Homo sapiens: one gene and its partners. The protein of the gene in region 3 purifies or fractionates together with the protein of the main gene of each other region. This does not show direct contact. Each region holds a gene or a part of one and is shown on either strand. Other genes may lie near its edges.

What was found.
Region 1: the proteins of WDR25 (region 3) and BMP1 purify together in Homo sapiens (affinity purification with mass spectrometry; one large-scale study listed by BioGRID and IntAct). This does not show direct contact.
Region 2: the proteins of WDR25 (region 3) and MELTF purify together in Homo sapiens (affinity purification with mass spectrometry; one large-scale study listed by BioGRID and IntAct). This does not show direct contact.
Region 4: the proteins of WDR25 (region 3) and LRIG2 purify together in Homo sapiens (affinity purification with mass spectrometry; one large-scale study listed by BioGRID and IntAct). This does not show direct contact.

What each region holds. Positions count from the first base shown.
Region 1 is NC_000008.11:22,206,872-22,210,371, forward strand, and holds part of BMP1 (bone morphogenetic protein 1 isoform 3 precursor), read left to right. Parts: coding exon 1-110; intron 111-431; coding exon 432-645; intron 646-2,573; coding exon 2,574-2,824; intron 2,825-3,500. UniProt on the Homo sapiens protein: Metalloprotease that plays key roles in regulating the formation of the extracellular matrix (ECM) via processing of various precursor proteins into mature functional enzymes or structural proteins.
Region 2 is NC_000003.12:197,012,818-197,016,317, forward strand, and holds part of MELTF (melanotransferrin isoform 1 preproprotein), read right to left. Parts: coding exon 3,372-3,500; intron 2,700-3,371; coding exon 2,548-2,699; intron 1-2,547. UniProt on the Homo sapiens protein: Involved in iron cellular uptake. Seems to be internalized and then recycled back to the cell membrane. Binds a single atom of iron per subunit. Could also bind zinc.
Region 3 is NC_000014.9:100,522,985-100,526,484, reverse strand, and holds part of WDR25 (WD repeat-containing protein 25), read right to left. Parts: intron 616-3,500; coding exon 445-615; intron 1-444.
Region 4 is NC_000001.11:113,090,198-113,093,697, forward strand, and holds part of LRIG2 (leucine-rich repeats and immunoglobulin-like domains protein 2 isoform 1 precursor), read left to right. Parts: intron 1-1,120; coding exon 1,121-1,186; intron 1,187-1,831; exon of another isoform or gene 1,832-1,943; intron 1,944-3,008; coding exon 3,009-3,083; intron 3,084-3,232; coding exon 3,233-3,367; intron 3,368-3,500.

The DNA.
Region 1 (3,500 bases), on a different chromosome or scaffold from region 3:
TGACATCCACCAGTGGTACCATCACCAGCCCCAACTGGCCTGACAAGTATCCCAGCAAGAAGGAGTGCACGTGGGCCATCTCCAGCACCCCCGGGCACCGGGTCAAGCTGGTAAGGGGTCCCCTCCCCACTCCTTATGCGGTGTGGCTGCCCCCGGTCAGAGGCACTGCCCAGAGCCACACAGGCTGCAGGCTGAGCCCAGAGGTCTGCCATCCCCAGGAGACCCCAAGTCTGGCCTGGACAGAGGCCCCTTTCCCAGTATAAATTAGGGGCGTCCCTGCCTTCGCCCTATTCCTGGGCCCTCCTTCACTGTCATCCCCAGCTGTGGCTGCTCCCATGGGTATCTGTGAGGCCTAGGTTTGGGGCCCTCATCCTTGCCCCACCTGCCTTCCAGCCAAATTTTTAATCTGTGCTCCTTCCTCATCCCCCTAGACCTTCATGGAGATGGACATCGAGTCCCAGCCTGAGTGTGCCTACGACCACCTAGAGGTGTTCGACGGGCGAGACGCCAAGGCCCCCGTCCTCGGCCGCTTCTGTGGGAGCAAGAAGCCCGAGCCCGTCCTGGCCACAGGCAGCCGCATGTTCCTGCGCTTCTACTCAGATAACTCGGTCCAGCGAAAGGGCTTCCAGGCCTCCCACGCCACAGGTACTGTCCCCGGTTGTGGGAGTGTTCACTGAGCCTGGTCTCCAAGACTGGGGTAGAGTCGGGGGTTTCAATGCGGGTATGAAGGTACAGAGGGACTGAGCCCTGCGACCCAGGGCCAGGGTTGTGGGTGATGCAAACATTGTGTCCTGAGAACCAGGCCTGGGGGGCAGGGATAGGAGGGTGTGGTTAGGGGTTAGGATGGCAGTGATGACGATGGACAGGAGAGGTGAGGGAACTCAGGGACAGAGAGGAAAGCCCCCAGAGGTCCCCCTGAGCGTACGCGGGCCACCGCAGCAGCCCAGCCACACACCAACCCTGAAATATACTCTATTCATTCTCTGATATTTATTTTTTTATTTTTATTTTTATTTATTTTTTATTTTTTGAGATGGAGTCTTGCTCTGTCGCCCAGGCTGGAGTGCAGTGGTTCGATCTTGGTTCACTGCAACCTCCACTTCCTGGGTTCAAGCGATTCCCCTGCCTCAGCCTCCCGTGTAGCTGGGATTACAGGAGCCTGCCACCATGCCCAGCTAATTTTTGTATTTTTAGTAGAGACAGGGTTTCGCCATGTTGGCCAGGCCAGTCTCAAACTCCTGACCTCAGGTGATCCGCCCGCCTTGGCCTCCCAAAGTGCTGAGATTACAGGCGTGAGCCACCGTGCCCAGCCCATTCTCCTGATACTTATTGACATGTAACATGGATGAGGCGGCATCCTAAATGCAGGTCCCAGAAACAGACCAAGCAAAGATCCCAGCCCTTGAGGGGCTTGCTCGGCTTTCACTTGCTTGTTTATTTAGCAGCCATGAACTGAGCTCCGCTCTGCGAGAGGACTAAGGGGCACGTGGCCTGAATCAGGCATGAGCCCTTCACTCCTGCCCCCCACCCCATACTAGGAACTCGCAGTCCAGGAGAGAGACAAGGCAGGCACCGCCCGTGACAGCATGAGCCCAAGCGGGAGCCAGGCAGGAAGAAAGGCACCCCGGCCTAACTGGGCATGTGTTGGTAGAGGCATTCGAGGCAGGGGGAGGTGCCCAGGCAGAGACACAACCCCAGCCCAGCCCAGAGTGTGCCCAGGTGACAGCAGGTCATTTACTTTGGCCGAAGCAATGGGTGTGTGAGGACAGCAGGTTGTGGGAATGATGTGGCTGCAGAGAAAGGCTGGAGTCCAGGGGGATGCCTTGAGTGCCAGACCAAGGATGCCACGAGGGAGCTTTGCAGTCTCCTCCTGGGTCCTAAGCCACCTGTCAGGGCATCCCCAGAGCTGATGGTCCACAGCCTCCCCTCTTCCCCTTCAACTCAGTCCCTGACCCAGCCCCGTCCTTCCCTCTCCCCACCTCCTCTAGCGAGACCTGAGTGCCAGGTGCACAAAAGCCAGAGGGCCTGGGGAGGAGGGTGGCCCCATGCACTGTCCTCTGCCCTTCCCAGCACAGGGTCACAAACCGGAGGCCCGGAACTCCATCTGGCCCTCAGACCTGCTATGTTTGGCCCACACTGTGTTTTTTTTAAAAATGTGAGCCAACACTTAAAAGTTAGGAGTTTTCACATAAAACCCAGATGTACGGCTTCTCTCTTGAAAATGGAAGCTGTGGCGACACTGGGCCCACATTCTTCCATGACAGCCATCAGCTGGAGAAAATGAGCAATGCCCTCTTTAGACAAAGTGTGTGGTGCCTCGTGCCACCGCTCCATGCTGTCTTCCTCTCGGTGAGCCTCACTGCCTGTTCCCCTCAGCCTAGGGCCAAGGTCCCTCTATTTAGAGATGGGGCAGCACAGCAATGTTCTGGGCCAGGCCCCCACCCACCCATCACTGGCCTCGTGGCCTTCACCCAGGCCTCCATCCTGCCGTGAGGGCACGCCATGGCATAGTGTGCCATGGGGCCTGGCACCTGCGGTGCTCAGGGCTGGTTGGCCCCTCTTGTCCCCTACAGAGTGCGGGGGCCAGGTACGGGCAGACGTGAAGACCAAGGACCTTTACTCCCACGCCCAGTTTGGCGACAACAACTACCCTGGGGGTGTGGACTGTGAGTGGGTCATTGTGGCCGAGGAAGGCTACGGCGTGGAGCTCGTGTTCCAGACCTTTGAGGTGGAGGAGGAGACCGACTGCGGCTATGACTACATGGAGCTCTTCGACGGCTACGACAGCACAGCCCCCAGGCTGGGGCGCTACTGTGGCTCAGGGGTGAGGCCCCCACCCCTCGCCCTCCTGGCCCCATGCCCCACGCCCCACACTGTCCTCCACCCTTCTCAGCCCAGTCTCCAAGACCTAGCGCCCACACAGGCCCCGGAAGTTGAGTGCAGCACGCGTGTGGCCCTGTGTGGGAGCCCAGAAGCCCAGCCTTGTTGGGGCTACTCAGAGACACTGCCCCATCCCCGACGTAGGAAACCAAGTCCTTTCTGGGCAACCTAGAAGTTCCTGCGGCCTCTGACCCAGGCCTGCCTCAGAACCAGTTGGCCACGGCCTGGAGCGGATGGAGCTTCCTCTGTCCCTCCTTTCCTTACCCCTCCCCCAAGGCAGCCCACCAGGGCCTGGAATGGGGGGCAGAGGTTGGCACCAGAGCCGGGGACAGGGCGCCTGAGCGGAGTGGCCCTCACCAGTCCTTTTGCCGGAGGCATAAACACTCTTGTCATTTCCTCTACCAGTTTCTCCTCCTGATGAAAGGCCAGCTTGTCCCAAAGCTCTTGCTGCTGCTGTCCCAGTGGCCCCTGGGCACTGCTTCTTGGTCCATAAAATGGCACGTTAAGAGTCAATGAGCAAAAGTAGGCTTGATGGGCTTTTCCCTAAGGACATGGGCTAGCCTCGTGGGGAGGATTTATTTTCCTCCCTGTAAGAGCTTGCAGCTGCCTCTTCTTCTTTT
Region 2 (3,500 bases), on a different chromosome or scaffold from region 3:
ATGGGGGCCAAATCGAGTGGGTCATGACAAGTGTCAGGAAAAAAAGGATTAGAATAGAATACATTAGAAAATAGTGGGTACCATTTGTGTCATATCTCTGTATATAAAGGACATACATTTTTAAATTTCTATCTGAAAGAAAAGTTTCCGTTCACTAGATTGTGATCAATGCAAAATGTATTCTGAGTGCTCGGTGCTGTCAGCAATGCTGAACTTCCCTATGAAAATTCCAATGACATTCTTTACAGAATTAGAAAGAACAATCCTAAACTTTGTATGGAACCACAAGGGACCCTGAATAGCCAAAGCAATCCTAAGCAAAAAGAACAAAGATAGAGGCATAGAAACGGACATATAGACCAATGATCCAGAATAGAGAACCCAGAAATTAACCCGCAGTTTTACAGCCAGCTGATTTTTGACAAAGGTTTCAAGAACCTCTTTGGGAAAAGAGTGATCTCTTCTTCAGTGGACGCTGCTGGGAAGAAGCTGAATGTCCAAGTGCAGAATGAACGGGGCCCTAAACTACCCCTCACCCAGCACAGGGACCAACTCAAAATGGATGAGAGGCCTAAATGCAGGGCCCAAGACAATAAAATTGCTGAAGAGAATATAGGCAAAACGCTTCAGGACATTGGTCTGAGAAAAGATTTTATGAAAAGACCTCGAAAGCATAGGCAACAAAAGCAATAATAAGCAAAGGGAATTGTATCAAACAAACAAGTTTCTGCACAGCAGAGAAAACAACGAACAGAGTGAAATGAAGACAGCCTATGGAATGAGAGAAAATATTTGCAAACTACTCATCCAACAGGGGATTAATATCCAGAATACACATGCAACGGAAACATCTCAACAGCAGAAAACCATCCAACTTAAAAACGGGCAAATGATCAGAACAGACGTTTCTCAAAAGAAGACATACAAAATGCCAGCAGCCATCACTGATCATCAGGGAAATGCAAATCAAAGCCACAGTGAGGTATCAGCTCACCCCAGTTAGGGTGGCTGTTATCAAAAAGATAAAAAATAACAAATGCTAGTGAGGATGCAGAATAAAGGAAACTCTTACACACCGTTGCTGGGGATGTAAACCCGGACAGCCGCTATGGAAAACAGTACGGAAGTCCCTCCACAAACTACAAATCGAACTATTGAATACCATATGGTCCAGTAATCCCACCACTGGGAATCTGTCCAAAGGAAAGGCAATCAGCCTGTGGAAGGGATGCCCGCACCCCATGTTTATCGCAGCACTGGCCACAATAGCCAGGATGTGGAATCAACCCAGGTGTCCAACAACAGAGGATGGATAGAGAAAATGTCATTGGCATGCACCGTGGAATACTATTTAGCCATAAAAAAGAATGAAATCCTGTCACTGGCAGCAACACGGACGGAACTGGGGGACACCGTGTTATGTGAAATAAGCCAGGCACAGCAAGTTAAACACCATATGTTCCACTCATATGTGGAAGCTAAAAAAAGTTGATCTCACAGAAGTAAAAAGTAGAACAGAGGATGCTGCAGACTGGGAAGGGTAGGGGAAGGGAGGAATAGGGAGAGTTTTTTTTTTTTTTTTTTTTTTTGAGACAGTCTCTCTCTTGTCGCCCAGGCTGGAGTGCAATGGTGTGATCTCGGCTCCCTGCAACCTCCACCTCCCGGGTCCAAGCGATTCTCCTGCCTCAGCCTCCCAAGTAGTTGGGATTACAACTGTGTGCCACCATGCTCGGCTAATTTTTTTGTACTTTTAGTAGAAACAGAGTTTCACCATGTTGGCCAGGCTGGTCTTGAACTCCTAACCTCAAGTGATCCACCCACCTTGGCCTCCCAAAGTGCTGGGATTATAGGTGTGAGCCAATGCACCCAGCCAGGAGAGATAGGAGGAATAAGCTCCAGTGTTCTATAGACTGTAGGATGACTAGAGTTAACAATAATACATAGTTTCAAACAGGTAGGACGATATTGCATGTTCTCCACACGGAGAAATGAGCAATGTTTGAGATGATGGTATGTTAATTATTATCCTGCTCTGATCACCATGTATTCTATGTATCAAAACATCAGTATGTATCTCATGAATATGCACAATTATTATTTGTCTATTTAGAAAAATCAGGAAAAAAGAAAAAAAAAGTCGAACAATGATCCACGCCCACTCTCTATTGCACAAGGGAAGGCTGAGATTCAGAAAGGGGAAGGGGCTTGCCCCAGGCTACAGGGCGTCAGTGCCCAGCTGGGCCAGCGCTTCTTCTGCTCCTGGCACCCCCACTTAGTGAGGAGCTCCCAGGCTCTCCAGGGGACTCACCCCTATCTGCCTGTCCCCTGGGGTGGGTGCTGGCCCCTGCGGTCGCTCCTCCCCGCCTGTCTCTGTCCCCTGGGGTGGGTGCTGGCCCCTGCGGTCGCTCCTCCCCACCCGTCTCTGTGGGCTTGTTGCAGTAGACACTCTCCTCTTCCCCAGGCAGCAGGGGGTGTGGGTAGTAAGAACTGCCCAGGCACTGCCACCACCCGCCCACCTGGCCCACGCTGCACCTGCGTGACTCCCACCTGGATCCGCTCCATGCAGTGTTGGGGGGACTTGGCTGACACGCACTGGATCTCTGGCTTGAGCCGCTGCCGGCGGAAGGCCACGGCCATGTCTCCACACTTCTGGATCTCGGGAGTGGAGAGCACACACCAGCGCAGGTAGGGGGGCAGCCCTGGGGTGGGGCAAGCAAGCGGTCACTGCCAGGCCAGTACTGCCATGGAAGAGCATGGAGTCGGACCCAAGGGAAATTCTGGGCCTTTCTCCTGTCAGGTGTGTGGCTGGGATAAGTTATTTAACCATCGGATCCCACTTCCTCACACAGAAAAGGGGCAACTGTGAGGCCTGAGGAAGACCATGGCTGGCGTGCATGTAACTCAGTGTGTGGTACCCACTTCCCTGGCTGGAGGTGGAAGATACATGGGGCCAGGGGGCTAAAGGCAAGAAGCTCACTTGTAGACTACTGCAATAGTCCAGGCGAAAGATGGCACCTGCGCCAGGGCTGTAGCCATGGGGTAGAGGCGGGGAGTAGGAGCGAGAGGCTGTAGAAGAGCTGACAGGATGCCATGGCCGTGGATGGGGGGGCGAGGAGACCCTTCCCAAGACAGATTCTGATGGTCTGCATCCTCCCCCGCTGCGGCCAGGTGGGGCTTCCGAGGTACAACAGGCCATACAGTGGAAGAGATGCCTCCTCCCCAAAGCCCCAGGGGCAGAGGAATGGAAATGACAGGTTCCCGCAGAGGCCTCCCTGGTGAGCGTCTTCCCCCGGCCACTTTCCCAGAGAGCCTCGCCATGCCCGAGGTTGAGCTGGGCTGGAGCTGGCAGCAGTGGGGACAGGTGGACTTACGGTTGGGGTCACAGAGCAGACCCTTCATGGCGTGCAGGTACTCATGGCCCAGCCACGCCTCATAGGTCTGTGTGGCGATGGGCACAAGCTCCGAGGTAGAGTCTTTGAAGAGTAGATCCTTCTGGCCAT
Region 3 (3,500 bases):
AAGGTCCTAGTGAATCCAAAACCTTAATGCAGGTGTTCTAACTGTGGGGCCCCTGCTCTGAACTCCTGGGCTACATCAACTGCCAATGCCACTGAGGGTCAGAAACCCCTTCTGAGTAGCTGGTTGTGGTGGCAGTGGGAGGGTGGGGTTTCTCAGGTTGCACTGCCACGTTCCCCATTGATCTGGACTGAACCGCCCCCCACCAGACCCTTACCCTGTGGGGTTGCTGTGCTGGCACAAGAAGAGCAGAAGGAGGTTGCATCTGGAAGCCCACAGCAAGCTCTCCATGTGTGCGGCAGGCTGAGACCTGACTACCCTCATCCTGGAGATTTCAGTCCAGTGAGCCTCCTCCCACAGAAGGGACCTGGGACCTCAGACAGACCAGAACTACATGGATACGCTCTGTGGCTGAAACTGACAGCAATGCCAAATGGGATTTCTTACGTGGAAAATCTGGTTGGAGATTTTGGCAGAGGTCCGGAAATCCCAGGCAATAATGGTGCGGTCAGCTGAGTCCCGGGTGGAAGCGTCTGTGCTGCTCAGGAACTCGGAGCCTTCCCGGAGGAACAGGATGTCCAAGGTCTGCTGGATGGTCGCCTTGTAGCTTCTCATCACCTGCAAGAGCGGACACCGGTCATGCTGGCAGGCCTGGCAGCACGGACAGGCGCCTATGCAGGGAAGGCCAAGGACCCAGGGGGCAGGCAGGTTTAGTGAAGTTTATGCTGGGCCACACACACCCAGGCTGAGCAGCACCCACAAGCCATATATGGAATCATGGACCCTCCTGCCCCATGCCCAGTCCAGTGTCTGTCAGCTTCTCAGCCCCCCTGCTCTATTGCCACATGGGTCCAGAGAGGCATCCCTATCACCCCTTGAGAGCAGCAGGATCCCAGGGAAAGCGCAAAGGGAAGGGCCTTGACTCGCCAAGGGCACCTCGAGAGCATATTGACATCCATCAACACTGGGGTCATGCTTTGAGTGGGTCCTGCTTCTGAAGACGTCACATAATTCACAGCTTGCAAAGTCCCAGATTGTTGTCCCAGAGGAGCCACAGTAATGCAGGAGCAAGTGTGCTTGGGGACAGACCATAAAGCCAGAATCACAGGACATATTTTAGCTTTAACGACACTTTGTATTGTTTTAGCATCATCACCGATACTTCACAGTCTGCTGTCTCATAAACTGACTTTATTAAGTATTGAGCAGTTGTTTTGCTTTCTTAGAGGATTTTATCACATTCAGCTTCTGCTCTCAAGTATCCAGCTCTGGTGAGGGGATGGAGAAGGGTCCCAGTACCAGGACCAGCAAGTAGCTCCACTTAACAAACTCACAGAGGACAGGACTTTAATGACAATATGGAAATAACATGCTGGGCACCCACGCGCAGCCATGGAAGCGCAGCAAGGTCTCAAGTTGGTCGCAGGGGCCGGCCGGTCCCTTTACCAGTTCCTGGGCCGCCACCATGTGGCTGCAGCATAAACAGTTCAGTCCCTGGGCCCCGCCAGCTCAAAATGAGCCACCTTGACTTTTTAATTGGAGTTCATACCTTTCAAATTTTGCAGACATATTTTCTGTCATCCTCCTTAAAATGTATACATCAAATTCACATTAAATGTGTCACTCCATAATTTCAGTTTAGGTTAGAGGAGGAGGAGGTTGAGGCCCATTCTCTGGATGAGGTTCACTGAGGCCCAGGAAGAGGTACGGATTTGCTCAAGGTCACAGGGCCAGGGCATGGTGGAGCCTCTTCCGACCTCCACGGCTTCCCTGGGACCCACGGTTCATTCTCCTGCTGGTCAATTCCTGCCTCTGTAATTCCTGGGGGAGGGTAGGCAACAGATGACCGCTCTTCTCTGAGCCTCTTCCAAAGCAACCCTCAACCAGGGAGATTTCAGAGTGGGCCCCCTGAAGCCTAAAGAATGATCCAGGGGTGGAAAAAAAAAGCCTTCTGAATGCAGAACAGGGAGACAAGCTGCCCCTCACGGCACGGCTGCCTGCCTTCCTCCACGCACTGGATTCTGCATGCCTGTGCCTGCTCTATCCTCCCACATGGCCTTGATATCACAGCCCCCACCAGCCTCAACACTTTGATCCCTAAGAGGCTGACCCAGGGAAAGGATGAGGAAGATGACGGCCCTCCCTGCCACTCGCTGAGTGCCCGTTAGGTGCTGGGCCTTGGCTGGGGGGTTCACATAAGTTATCTCATGACAAGAGCCCCATAGGTAGCTTCTCTCGGTGGGCATGAAGTCTCAGAGACAGGCAACTTGCCCAGGAGCCAAGAACTACCTACATGCCCCTGCCAACACACCACCTGCCTCCCAAGACAAACTTTTTGAGGAGAACCAAAACAGTTGTTCCGTACATTTTCTGAGAATGGATGGAAATGGCCCAATTCATTAGGGTGTCATAAAAGTGAATGGCTGGGAAACAAGCCGTGTTATGGGCGATCCCTGCCAATAATGTGGCTGCAAGTGGAAGGCTGGCCTTTGAAGTGATCGCCACCGAACATGATTTACTCGCCTTCACAACTGCTCATGCCCCAGGAAAGAGCAAAGGAGCCATTTGTGTGTCTAGCTGGTGGGTTTTATGGCAACCTTAATTACACCAACAGCTGGCATGGGACGCTGCTACCCGAGCCTAACGAGCTGGATCCAAAAGGGAGTCTCACTCAGACTCTTCTGGCAACTGCGGGCCCCTGGTAGAGATGCAGGGACATGGTCTTGGGGAAAGCAGAAGATCGATCATGACACATGCAGGGGTTATGTCCCTACAATCTGCCCACCACTCGGCCCACCAGCAAACCTGGGGGATGCTGGGCCGCTGCTGACTCGTCCAGAGCAGCCTTGGGTTCCTGCCACTTCCAGAGTGCACGGGGTTGGGGGTGGTCACTGGGCTCCAATCTTGGCCCACTACAGATTTACTATGTGCCTGGGGAAGGTTCGTTCCCTTCCTAGGTCTAGTTTTTGAGTCATCAACACGAGGGCCCCAACCACACCTCTGAGCCTCTAAGTACTCCTGGTCCTCAGAAAGAAGAAGGACTGGCGGATGCACCCAGCTATCCCTCACCCCATGCTGCCAGTCCTCTGCACCCAGACCTGAAGGACAGGGGGTGGGGAGGCACTGCTCTGGGCTCACACGCAACCCTGTGCTCCCTTAGCTGCCCACATCAGCCACCTGCCTACGCCACAGGACTGTGAGCTCCTGGCACAGACGCCCTGCTGCCCACATTTCTGGGTCACCCTTGGCTAGCACTGGGTCTGCCCCTGCAGGCATCAGTAAGGTGTGTCAAATTGATGCTGGATAAGTGAGTAAATGCATAAATGAATGAGTGAATGAACAAAAGGTCGACTACTTTAAAAGTAGCAATCCAGGGTCCTCCGGCTCCCAGCAACATCCTGGCATGCAGGGCTGAGGCAACACACAAAAGCCTTTGCCACTGGCTCTCCCAGGACCCCCGGGTGAGATGACATTCACTCACAGGTCCTTCCCCTGGCCCTGAT
Region 4 (3,500 bases), on a different chromosome or scaffold from region 3:
AGCAAGGGGCAAAATGTGTAAATTGTTGTGTCATTTCTGTAAAAATTTGCTGTACATGCATAAAATATCCAGAAGTCTGCACAATAAATGGCATATTTTCATTTGTTGTTACTGGGAAGGGGAATTGGGTGGCTGGAAACAAAAGTGGGAGACTTTTTACACTTTTTGATAATTGGACCATGTGAATATATTCCCAAACTCAGAAGCTACACACACATATATAAATACACACACGTAAAGTAAAATAGCTATTTTGAAATTCAGATACATTTTTATTCATCCTTTATAAACATTCTTGTCTATACTACTCAAATTGACATTTAAGAGGACTTTTTTTTTTTATTAAAAAAATTTTTTTGGCTGGGTGTGGTGTCTCACGCCTGTATACCCAGCATTTTGAGAGGCTGAGATGGGCAGATCACGAGGTCAGGAGATCGAGACCATCCTGGCTAACATGGTGAAACCCCGTCTCTACTAAAAATACAAAAAAATTAGCCGGGCGTGGTGGCGGGCGCCTGTAGTCCCAGCTACTAGGGAGGCTGAGGCAGGAGAATGGCGTGAACCCGGGAGGCGGAGCTTGCAGTGAGCCGAGATTGCGCCACTGTACTCCAGCCTGGGCGACAGAGCGAGACTCCGTCTCAAAAAGAAAACAAAAAAATTTTTTTTTTTTTTGAGACAGAATCTTGCTCTGTCACCTACGCTGGAGTACAGTGACGTGAACTTGGCTCACTGCAACCTCTGCCTCCCGGGTTCAAGTAATTCTCCTGCCTCAGCCTCCTGAGTAGCTGGGATTACAGGCGTGTGCCACCACACCTGGATGATATTTGTATTTTTAGTAGAGATGGGGTTTCACCAGGTGATTCTTGAACTCCTGACCTCAGGTGATCTGCCACACCTGGCAAATATTTGTATTTTTAGTAGAGATGGTGTTTGCCAGGTGAGTCTTGAACTTCTGACCTCAGGTGATCTGCCTGCCTCAGCCTCCCCAAGTGCCAGGATTACAGGCATGAGCCACTGTACCTGGCCAAGAGGACTTTTTGTATTTCTATTTAGTTTCTTTTTTTTTCTTTAGGTCTACTTTCCAGGACTAAACTAAGAATGATATTTTGTCCTCTTTCAGGGATTTCAGTCATAATCGGTTGTCTAACTGGAACATCAGCTTGGAATCACAAACATTACAGGAAGTGTAAGTTATTTTTATTTATTTAAAGTTATGTTAAATTCCTGAGGGAACTTAATAAATTGTGATTTGTGGGATGTTTAATCCAGAGATGCCATAAAAAAATTGAAGGAAAAAATTAGTTAAAAGAAATTATTTGAAAACCTAAAATGTTTTCTTTGGCTTTGTTATTATCAGACTGTCTTGGCATTGGGTTGGTGATTTCAAGTTGCAGGCTGTGGGGGAAATATTCTACCTTCCTGGGGCTAAAAGTAAGATTTACGCCTCTTCAGAGTAAATGTGTTTTGATTTTGGCCAAGTTTTCAGCCAGTGAAACTCTGTTGTATAACCTTTTTAAATGTCTTGACATGTTATCTAAGATTGGGAGCATCATGTCTAAAGTAGATTTATATGAAATAGAGTATTCTTGATATCATATGAGAATGTAATGATTGATAGAATTAAGTTTTTCTCTTAACTAAAGTTTTTCCTTTAATACTGAGATGTATTATGTAATTTTGGAGGGAGTTTTCTAAGATATTATTAATATTAGTTTTTGCATTGTTACATTCCTAGAGGCACAACCGTTAAGGTATATAGGCCTATTTGCCTCTACAATTAACACCATCAGAACCCTGAGATTTACTTTCCTTTTTAATTCTTTGCTAACAGGGATAACTTCTTCATGCTCATTGTCTCTGCATTCTCTCCTCCTGGCCCCAGATTCACTGCTTCTAATACGTTGTGGATGAGTACACAGTTGACAAGTTTGTTAGCTGAAAGAGTAGGCACTGAGGAAAGGCCTGAAAATGCTTCAGTGGGAAGTGCATGAGCTTTATTGCATGGACTTTGTAACTTTGGTTGGTTTCCTGAAGGTCTTTACTTCTGGTTTCTTTTCTGTGTTCTAGATTGTTGAGGTTGTTCAGTGACTAAAAACCAGGTTAATGAAATGTGATTGTATTAGATTTGCTACTAAAACATTTGAGACAAACTGTTTAAAGGGCTGCTGGGATCAGATGCAACATGTTATGTTATCTGTAAAATTAGTCATAGGTTCCATCTCTGGGTGGGCTGATAAATTTCATCTGTGGTCTCAAGTAACACTCTCTAACATTTGTATAGCTTTAGAAAAAATATATATACATTTGTGTGTTGTGTGTTTATATATATTTAGAGAAAGAGAGATCTGGATGGACTGATTATGCCTTCTTTAAGGACTCAAATTAGCTGCCATAAACCCAACTTATTCAAAGAACTTTGCTTGAACTAACAATATTTAATGTGCAAAATACTTCATAACCTTTCTGATATTAATATCAATAGTAGATCAACACTATGAAAATACATTTCTTGGCCAGGCATGGTGGCTTACGCCGGTAATCCCAGTACTTTGGGAGGCCAAGGTGGGCAGATCACCTGAGGTCAGGAGTTTGAGATCAGCTTGGCCAACATGGTGAAACCTGTCTCTACTAAAAATACAAAATTAGCCGGGCGTGGTGGTGCATGCCTGTAATCCCAGATACTCAGGAGACTGAGGTAGGAGAATCACTTGAACCCAGGAGGCAGAGGTTGCAGTGAGCCAAGATTGCACCATTGCACTCCAGCCTGGGCAAAAAGAATGAAACTCTGTTTCAAAAAAAAAAGAAAAAAAAAAGAAAGAAAATACATTTCTCATTAAAACCTCTAATTTCTCAATAAATACATTTTTATTTTCGTCTAACTCATTCTGAGTCATATTCTTTTTCAAATTTGGCACCTATTCTAAAGAATATGTGTTAGCCAGAAGGTAGAATCCAAGAGGTAATATTTCCCTCACTAAACATTTAAATCTGTTTTTCCTCTTGCCTAGGAAAATGAATTACAATGAACTAACAGAAATCCCGTATTTTGGAGAACCTACATCTAATATTACTCTACTTTCATTGTAAGTTAGTAAGTTTTCAGGTTTTTTACTTAAATTATGAAAAGTATACATTTTTTTTTTAAAGCACATATATTGTTGATTCTAATTAACATTTTTGTGGCCTGGGGTGGATCAGTGGCAGCAGCTTCATTATAATCTTTGTTTTACAGAGTCCATAATATAATCCCAGAAATAAATGCACAGGCACTCCAGTTTTACCCTGCTCTGGAGAGTTTAGACCTCAGCTCAAATATAATATCAGAAATCAAGACATCTTCATTTCCTCGCATGCAGCTTAAATACCTGTAAGTAACACAGATTAAATTAGATTTACTTTAAAGCACATGTTTATGGGGACTGTTGTGGGGTGGGGGGAGGGGGCAGGGATAGCACTGGGAGATATACCTAATGCTAGATGACGAGTTAGTGGGTGCAGCG